Linked DNA regions of Homo sapiens. The protein of the gene in region 1 purifies or fractionates together with the protein of each later gene. This does not show direct contact. Each region holds a gene or a part of one and is shown on either strand. Other genes may lie near its edges.

Region 1 (4,910 bases):
CACAAGGTGGCAAGAGAGAACAAGCAAGCACGCAAGTGAAGGGGGAACTGTTACACTTTTAAAACCATCAGCTCTCGGGAGAATTCAGTATCAGGAGAACAGCATAGGGGAAAACCGTCCCCATGATGCAAGCACTTCCCACCAGGTCCCTCCCTTGACACATGGGGATAACAATTAGAGATGAGATTTGCGTGGGGACACAGAGCCGAACCGTATCAGACCTCATGGGGGCCTGCAGTAAGGGAATCAGACCTACTCTCTCAAACATGAGTACAAGGGAAGGAGATGTCATCAGTCCCTGAAATTCCTGCCAGTGTGGTCTTCAGTGACCTCAGTCAGTGTTAGATGCTTAGAAGGAAATCTTTTGGATCATCTGTCGACAGTTGGCACTTTCTTACATGCCAGGCATAGTGCTGCTTTATGTAGTTATTTTCTGTGATGTCATCTCATTAAAACAGGCCAAGAACAGCTAAGCATGTGAAGTTTACTAGAAGGGGAACTAGACTGAAGATTTGAGTGAAGCGTTCCAATGGAATGCCTTTTTATGGCAAATACCTGAGAGTCATTTCCCAGCTTCAAGCTGCAGTGTTCCAAGTATGAGCAGCACCAGTTGGACCACATCATAAGATCTGTGTGGGTGATGTTACCAAGGGAGGGAGAGTAGATGGAAGGGGCGCTTTCCAGTCTCTGTCCACATAAACTGCCATCTTAACCAGAGTGCTTTGTAGGAACACCAGCTTTACATTCCATCCAATTCATGACATCAGCAGCCTGGCTGGCCCTGCACTGCTCCACTGGAGTGTGGTCCTGCTCCTACCACTGTTGATCCTACTCTGATCTCTCTAATCCTAACCCTCCACTTCCCTGCCCTCAACCCCCACACCACCACTGCCCTCCTCCTGTGAACAAGCTGATTAAGAGGAAGTTACAGAAATGAGAAATAGTGAGATATTAAAAAACTGGCTCAGACAACCAAAGAAAAACACATACTAAACTGAGGCAGGGCTGAGAGAAGGATCAATGGAGCGCTGTTTCCATGACTTCAAGTTGCTATATCCATCAGCCTGTTCCCAAAGGACTGTTTCTTCATCTTTTTCACCCGAAGAACAGCTGGATACCTTCCTCCGGGGCTGTATCCTGAGGTGTTTTCCTGGCATCCGATTTCCTACTCTTAGAATACTCCCCCGTTTCCCACAGATACACACTACTAGAATTCCTATTTCTGATATGCCATTCTAAAATGCAATGCTAGTAATCCCAGCACTTTGAGAGGCCAAGATGGGAAGAAGGCTTGAGCTCGGGAACTCAAGACCAGCCTGGGCAAATAGTGAGACCCCACCTCTACCAAAAAATAAATATAATGCTTTCCCTTAATAATTGCGCCATCTCCTATATCTTCCTACCATTAATAATCAATAACTCAGTTATACTGGGACCATCTTAACTTCCACCCTGGAAATCAGTTGCAAGACCAAAATATCCTGTTCTCTAAGAGTCAGATCTTCCTCAGCTACTGAGTAAGAATGTAAACATTCTAAACAAAGAATTGAAAACATTTTTACTGCTATAGACCACAGAAGGAAAGAATACTTTCTAGAGACCCTATGACAGCATCACCCCAGCAGCCATTTGGCTTGACCCTTTGTTACCACATGGCAGTCCCAGCCTGGAGGCTGCCAGGCCCTCACCTGCCTCTGCCTGTCTGCTGCCTCCTTTGTCAGCATCTTCCTGACCAACCCAGTAAGTCTATGAGAAAGCAGGGCCTCTGACCAAGGCAGAGGGGAGACAGATCAACACTCGGGGGTCTAGACAGAGGCTTTCATTGAAGACTCACAGACATTTATGTTTCCTGAAGATATTTATTCCCATCCAAACATTTTCAACAGGGAAAGACACAATCCCCAATTTCCCCCTAGGATTCACATTTTCAATTTTCCAGGGAATCTCTCTTTCCTGGAATGCTCTCGTTCCTCTGGAGTCAGGAACAAGACTCCAGAGCTGTTTATTTTTCTCACACAGGTGGGGGGAATCTCATTCTCCACAAAGGGTTATCAGACACCTACTTCCTCTGCCAATTCCTGGGCTGACCTGCAAATTCCACCTTATTATTGCCCTTGGGCCTCTGGTTCCTTTTTGTCTGAGGTCATATTTACATGTGTAATCTGCCAATGGGCACTCCTGTTAGGCCATCGTAGGGCACGTGGTGGCTTGATCTGGACTGCCCATGGCTTCCCAACTGGGGCCTTCGGGACAGCTGCAACTCACAACCAGTCTTTTGTTGACCTTCAGCTGATTTCCCAGGGTACTTGGCCCCTCTTCTTTGGTCTCAGGGGCCCCGGAAGCCCAAATGCTCCTACTGAATGTCCCAAATGAGGAAGAAGTATCAAAAACATCACATGGATTCCCAAACTTGTTAAGGTAAACTGGACAGTCAGGTGCCCAAATCGCACCTTGGCTTTAAAAAGACCAAGAGGGTAGGAGCACCCTGGGGCAGGGTGGACTTAACAGAGAATTCCACCCTGAGGTCACCTCAGAGACTTGCCATCCTTTCTCATGCAGACAGAACTCCTTTTCAGTTTTATGCCAATCCTCTGCTGCCTCTGCACCTCCCTCACAATGAGCCCCCATTACCTGAAGAATGCAGAGGTCATTTGGTCGGCTGGGCAGGGAATACCAGCTCTTGCCAACAGGCTCCTCTGAATATGCCACCTCACCTGGGGCAAAGAGAAACCCCACTGTTACTAACCTGTGTGAGTTCTCTGATGACTCATAAGACGGGAACTCCGAGAGAAGCTTTCTCCACATTCAGAACATTTATAGGGTCTCTCTCCCGTATGCGTTCTCAGGTGGCGAATCCGATTGGAGCTGTGAGAGAAGCTGTCTCCGCACTCATGACAGGTATAGGGTTTTTCTCCTGTGTGGATTCTCTGGTGCCTGATTAAATTGGATCTATGAGAGAAGTTTTCCCCACAAAGGGTACATTTATACGGTTTCTCTCCTGTGTGTGTTCTCTGATGTCTGGTGAGGTGCATGCCCTGCCGGAAGCTTTTCCCACAAGTCAAACATTCAAAGAGCTTCTTCTCTGCCTTATGGGCTCCATGGTTTGTAAGAAAGGGGGTGCTGTCACTCACAGCTTCCCCACACTCAGAGAAGGGGTAAAGTCTCTCTCTCTCATGAGTTCTTTCGTGAATGACGAGGTGTGAACTCCGAGAGAAACTTTTCCCACACTCGGGACACTTATAAGGTCGCTCTCCAGTGTGAATTCTCTGGTGCCGAAGGAGGTTGGAACTGTGAGCAAAGATCTCCCCACACTCAGGGCACTTGTAGGGCTTCTCCCCAGTGTGCGTTCTCTGGTGCCTGTGGAGGTTGGAGTTGCAGGAGAAACATTTTCCGCAAATGTTGCACTGATAGGGCTTCTCACCCGTGTGGGTGCGTTGGTGGCGAGTCAGATGGGTGTTCTGACTGAAGCATTTCCCACATTCAAGGCACTTGTGGGCCTCCTCTCCCAGGTGTGCTCTGTGTAGTGACAGGAAACGTGGGTTCCCACCAAAGATTTCAGTGCAGTCCACACCCATACACAGTCTTTCAGCTGCATGTATTCTCTGGTGCCTAATTAGGTTTGAGTTGTTAGAGAAATTTTTGCCACACAAGGGACATAAATGGAGTTTCTTTGGCTGCAGTTCCTTCGGTCGCCCCAGTTCTCTGCCACTTGAGGCTCCTGCCAAGGCCTGCTCCATTCCACCCTCTGGGGGAGGCGCCCAATCCCCTTGCGACCGGTCATGAGGTCTTCCCAGCTCAGGACTCCAGGGCACCTCCCCTCGGGCCTGGTCAGGAAGCAGCACCTGAGGGTGGATGTTCTCAGAGCATACAGACGGAACACCTTCCAGGTTCTCAAATTTCTCTTCTCCTGGTAGAGAGAGAGAAACCAAACCCGTACATTATTTCTATGCTGGAGAAAAGAAAATCCCACCTGTCTGCCGCTGCCTGTTAGGTCAGCAGCCCAGAAGGGCTGCTTCTACCTCAGAATCCCATCCTCTCCTAAAGGTAAAGCACTCTGGAGAAGCATCAGGATAAAGGGTCGGGCCACTGGTCAAGGAATCAGAGCCGAGACCAGTCTTAGAATTTTCCTTTCCACCTGAGCCTCTCGATTCTGCCCTTCAGGAATGGGTGGGATGGAGCAGGGCTGAGAGTAGGGTGGGACAAGTAAGCTCAAGAATAAGGGCCTCCTTGAACTCTGCACCCTGGGTTCCTCACTTGCCTCACTGGGATGGAGAATGGCAGGGTCAAAGGACGTAATGTACCTCTCTAGCAGCTGTGCTGGGCCGGCCCTGCACCCAAATCCTCAAATGCCTTACTCTGCTGGGGGCGGTGGCTCACACTTGTAAATCCCAGCACTTTGGGAGGCCGAGGTGGGTGGATCACCTGAGGTCAGGGAGACCAGCCTGACCAATATGGAGAAACCCCGACTCTACTAAAAATACAAAAAATTAGCTGGGCGTGGTGGCGCATGCCTGTAATCCCAGCTACTCGGGAGGCTGAGGCAGGAGAACCGCTTGAACCTGGGAGGCGGAGCTTGCAGTGAGCCGAGATCGCACTGTTGCACTCCAGCCTGGGCAACAAGAGTGCCACTCCATCTCAAAACAAAACAAAACAAAACCAAAAAATGCCTCACTCTTAACTGCAAGAGCCTTGCTGCTTGCTGCGCAGGCCACTTGTCTTCATTCCTTACCTGGAGCTGGGCCTCTGGGGCTCAGGCCCTCCTTGCAGCTCTGGACACTGGGATCCCATAGCTTTCCTCCTTGTCCCACCTGGGTGCCTGGGACCTCCTGACTGGGAATGTGAGACTCTGTTCACAATGAAAGAAACAGATTTCTGTACTGCCACTTTCCTCTACCAGGGTAGGGAAACAG
Region 2 (4,587 bases), on another chromosome or scaffold:
TTTCTGATAATTTTCTCAGAACTGTCAGCTTTCTGAAATACGGTTTGAATCTAACCACTTCTAAAATAAAACAATAGCTCTCCATGCCTAGTATGAATAAATTCCTCCGGCTAGCATGCAAGTCCTTTCATAGAATGGACCCAACATGACTCTAGTTCTACTTACCACTATATGTACCTTAAAATCTGGTTCAACTAGATTACCTGATACCTTTTACAGTACTCCTTTACATGGTTAAGAACATGAAGTTAATCTGACAAATGTTCACTAAATATGTGTTAAATAAATACACAGAAAAAAATAAACATCAAAGCCCAAGCAGGCCACGTGCAGTGGCTCACGCCTATAATCCCAGCACACTTTGGGAGGCCGAGGCAGGTGGATCACTTGAGCTCAGGAGTTTTGAGACAAACCTGGCCAACATGGTGAAACCTGTCTCTACAAAAAATTGTAGAGCACTCCAGCCTGGGCAACAGAGTGAGACTCTGTCTCAAAAACAAACAAACAATCAATCAAACAAAAAATGACCCAAGCAAGCCTTTTCAATAAAAAGAAAGTCATATATTTCTGCACACTAGCTTTTATTAACATCCCTTCACTGAAAGGTATTTTCATTTGGCTTCCATGAGTATTTTTTCTCCTTTCTAAAAGCTCTTTATCTGGCTCATCTTCCTGACACTCAGTAAAAACAGATATTCATCAGGATTATGTTCCTGGCTCTCTTCTTTTAAAATATTCTTAAAACTCCTTTGCAATCTCACACCCTTGGTTTTAATTATCCAGTATCACCTCCAGAAAAATAACTGTCTGTATTCCAGTTCATTTTTTTTTTTCATGGAGTTTCACTCGTTGCCCAGGCTGGAGTGCAATGGCACGATCTCGGCTCACTGCAACCTCCGACTCCCAGGTTTAAGCCATTCTCCTGCCTCAGCTTCCCAGGTAGCTGGGATTACAGGCACCTGCCACAATGGCCGGCTAATTTTTTGTATTTTTAGTAGAGACAGGGTTTCACCATGTTGGCTAGGCTGGTCTCGAACTCCTGACCTCAGGTGATCCACCCGCCTCAGCCTCCCCAAGTGTTGAGATTACAGGCGTGAGCCACTGCGCCCAGCCCCAGTTCTTAATTTTTAGCTGTCTACTGGTCCTTTCTAATTTGATGTCACACTGTTATGCCCAACTCAAGATGTTTAAATCCAAAACTTGCTTTTTCTTTCTACTATTTTCCCCGCCCTCATTATTGCCAGCATTTTATCACCTAAATTTGAAATTCAGATCATCTCATTTGTATTGTTTTTACACAGAAAACTAGTTTTACACAGAAATCTTACTATTTAGTTTGCATTTTTCCCAATGATACTGATTATTTTCAAAAACACGATTTTACTTGTCTATAAAATATACCATTGCATGGTTACACTGTAATTTATTCAGCTATAACTGTATTGTTGAATATTTTTAAACATCTGCTTGTTTTCTCTTTGGAATATACTCCTCAAAGTGAAATTACAAGTTTAAAGGATATAGATATTTTTAAACTACTACAAAATTGTCCTTCAAAAAGGTTAAACCAACTTACATATCTACCTACAGAATCAGAACCTGTCTGTTTCACTGGGCCTTTGCAAACAACACTTAACATTTAAGTAAAACTTTATATAAAGCATACTTGGCGCACACATAAAAGGCAACTGTTTCATAACCTGAAGATAGTCTTTTAAGCTGAGGATCCAGACTTTCAGGAAGTATATCTGGCTCTTAGGAAAGAAGAAGCCTAAATAATCTGGGCTCCATGTCCCTACACCAGTAGAAGAGCTCTATTTCTCTGTTATTTACACAGAGGTTCTGCCTTGGACTTTGATTGAAAAATGAGTTATCTTGCCTTAAAACTACATCAAAATCAGAGTTCTAAATCATTGATTTGATGTATATAATACTATTGTTTAAGAAGGTAGAAAAATATTTGGCATATATTTTTGAATATACTGACTATACTTTAGAAAGCATTCCAACAAAAATGGTTTTTAAAATGTAGCTTTTAAAGGCAAATACTTAGTTGTCCAAAATGACTCTATCCCCGAGAGTTTAAAAAAGCCCATATTTGACTATACAAATCTCCATTTTATTATAGTAACACAAATGTAATTTCTATTTAACAAATAACCTTTGCACAGAAAACAGTGCTGCCAACTGGCATACATTTTTAAGCTACTGAACATCAAAGAATGAGTAAGTCACCTTTTTCTACGTTCAATTTAGATATAGTTCCACTTGGAAGTAAGGGAATTCATGAAGCCTGACCAAAAAAAGTCCATTCATAAAGAAGATAACCGTATTTCATATGGATCAAACTGTCAGGCAAAATCTGAGTAGCAAGTCACAAAAAACCTTCTTGCAGGCATTTTTACTTTGTTTTTGCACAAATCACCTTTGAACGGTAATTTAAAAACTAATTTGGTTGACATAAATGTCATTTTTATGGTATACAATGAAAAACACAGAAATACACCATGTTCCACACATAGCTGAAATACTTAAATGAAAATCCAAGAGTTCTTTTAGAGAACCACAGAAAAAAAGGAAATTATCATTGTTATTATTTTACCTGTGGGCTGCAGAAGTGAAGCAGGTGGGCGAGGCTGTAAGCCCCACAAATTTTCTATACTGCTCCGGTCCTTAAGGTCCAACAAATGTATTAAAATTAATGGATCAATGTCTAGTAAACTACTGGTAGCAGCGGAGCATAAATGTGTTCTTCTTGATATTCTACTACTGGAACCCACATAACCATGGCTACTACCTGCAAAAGAGGCGTAGAAAATGATATATATATGCACAAACTTAGCTATACTTAAATGAAAAAATGAACTGGTTAACATTATATGAATACTTGTCTATGGACCTATCTCTTAGGAGTTCAGGTTCATGATAAGAAGCAGAAAGAAGGAACCAGGGCCGGGCGCGGTGGCTCACGCCTGTAATCCCAGCACTTTGGGAGGCCGAGGCGGGTGGATCATGAGGTCAGGAGATCGAGACCATCCTGGCTAACAAGGTGAAACCCCGTCTCTACTAAAAATACAAAAAATTAGCCGGGCGCGGTGGCGGGCGCCTGTAGTCCCAGCTACTCGGGAGGCTGAGGCAGGAGAATGGCGTGAACCCGGGAAGCGGAGCTTGCAGTGAGCCGAGATTGCGCCACTGCAGTCCGCAGTCCGGCCTGGGCGACAGAGCGAGACTCCGTCTCAAAAAAAAAAAAAAAAAAAAAAGAAAGAAGGAACCAGACAGTTGTACATTAGCACAGTGATTGAGTGGTGGCCTCATTAGTACTTAGAATTCAGAAGCAAGCCTCAACCCCATCCTGAGCCCTAGAAAAAAACAGATGACAATGTGTACGATGTGCACAATTGGGGGGATGAGAGGTAAGGGTAAGGAGAAGGAGATTATATCCCATGACCACCTGGTTTTAGATAAAAGAAGACAAATTCCCATAGTATAACAGATTACAAAGAATTAGACACCAAAATAGAAATCTCCCCCAAGTCTCTGGACAGTAAAATGTATAGGTCATGACAGTTTGGTAGACTTTTTCTACTTTGATTAAATAATGGGGTACAATTTGAAGTTTTTGGACTGTCATGTTAATGACTGATGCACATTACAGACATCTGTAGGCAGATATTATGCCTATACCCCTATATTGGACTATGCTCTTTAAGCCAAGAAAAGCATCTGACTTTTCTCTAGCACCTAGTATAATGCATAACAAATACCAGATATGGAAATGTTGCTTAAAACTGACCTTCTTCAATAAAGCTGTTTAAATATATTTTAAAGAGATAGAACATTTTAAAACAATGCTACACGCAGGAAAGTAGATAATATAAAATATTAAAAAGTCAGGTTCCAACTACCCATGAGTATTTCAGAGAGATCCAGCAGGATATAACTTAGGAGGAAAGTTCCATTGTTCAGAAGCTTCAAGCCAATTAATAATTTATGCTTTTCACATCCTCATGTTCTCACTGTCTCCCACTTCTGCCTCCTCTTCTAAGGATTATTATCTCACTGACAGTTTTTCTTCCCAGCCTCTGTATTACTGCAATTCCTATTAAATAACAGAAAACGATTTCCCCTTCACATTGAAAACTGTTCTTTGTTGTGTTTTGAGACACAGTCTCACTGTTGCCCAGGCTGGAGTGCAGCGGCCCGATCTCCACTCACGGCAACCTCCGCCTCCTGGGTTCAAGCGATTCTCCTGCCTCAGCCTCCCGTAGTGGGGACTACAGGCATGCACCACCACACCTGTATTTTCAGTAGATACGGGGTTTCACCGTGTTAGGATGGTCTGGATCTCCTAACCTAGTGATCCGCCCGCCTCAGCCTCCCAAAGTGCTGGGATTACAGGTGTGAGCCACCGCACCCAGCTGAAAACTGTTTTTACCTCTTTTCTTTTACTAAGGAATTCCCAAATTGGGTTGTATGTCAGTCAGCTGAAGGAGTTTTTAAAATTACATCCTAGATACACTGAACAAGAATACTGGGGTGAGAAGCTGGGTGCAGTGGCTCACGCCTGTTATCCCAGCACTTTGGGAG

Evidence for each region. The genes of interacting proteins can lie anywhere in the genome.
Region 2: the proteins of ZNF263 (region 1) and TRIM37 purify together in Homo sapiens (affinity purification with mass spectrometry; 2 studies listed by BioGRID and IntAct, with this or other methods). This does not show direct contact.

What each region holds. Positions count from the first base shown.
Region 1 is NC_000016.10:3,288,390-3,293,299, reverse strand, and holds the end of ZNF263 (zinc finger protein 263), read right to left. Parts: intron 4,847-4,910; coding exon 4,730-4,846; intron 3,908-4,729; coding exon 2,742-3,907; 3' UTR 1,840-2,741; downstream 1-1,839. UniProt on the Homo sapiens protein: Transcription factor that binds to the consensus sequence 5'-TCCTCCC-3' and acts as a transcriptional repressor.
Region 2 is NC_000017.11:59,029,294-59,033,880, forward strand, and holds part of TRIM37 (E3 ubiquitin-protein ligase TRIM37), read right to left. Parts: intron 2,798-4,587; coding exon 2,603-2,797; intron 1-2,602. UniProt on the Homo sapiens protein: E3 ubiquitin-protein ligase required to prevent centriole reduplication. Probably acts by ubiquitinating positive regulators of centriole reduplication.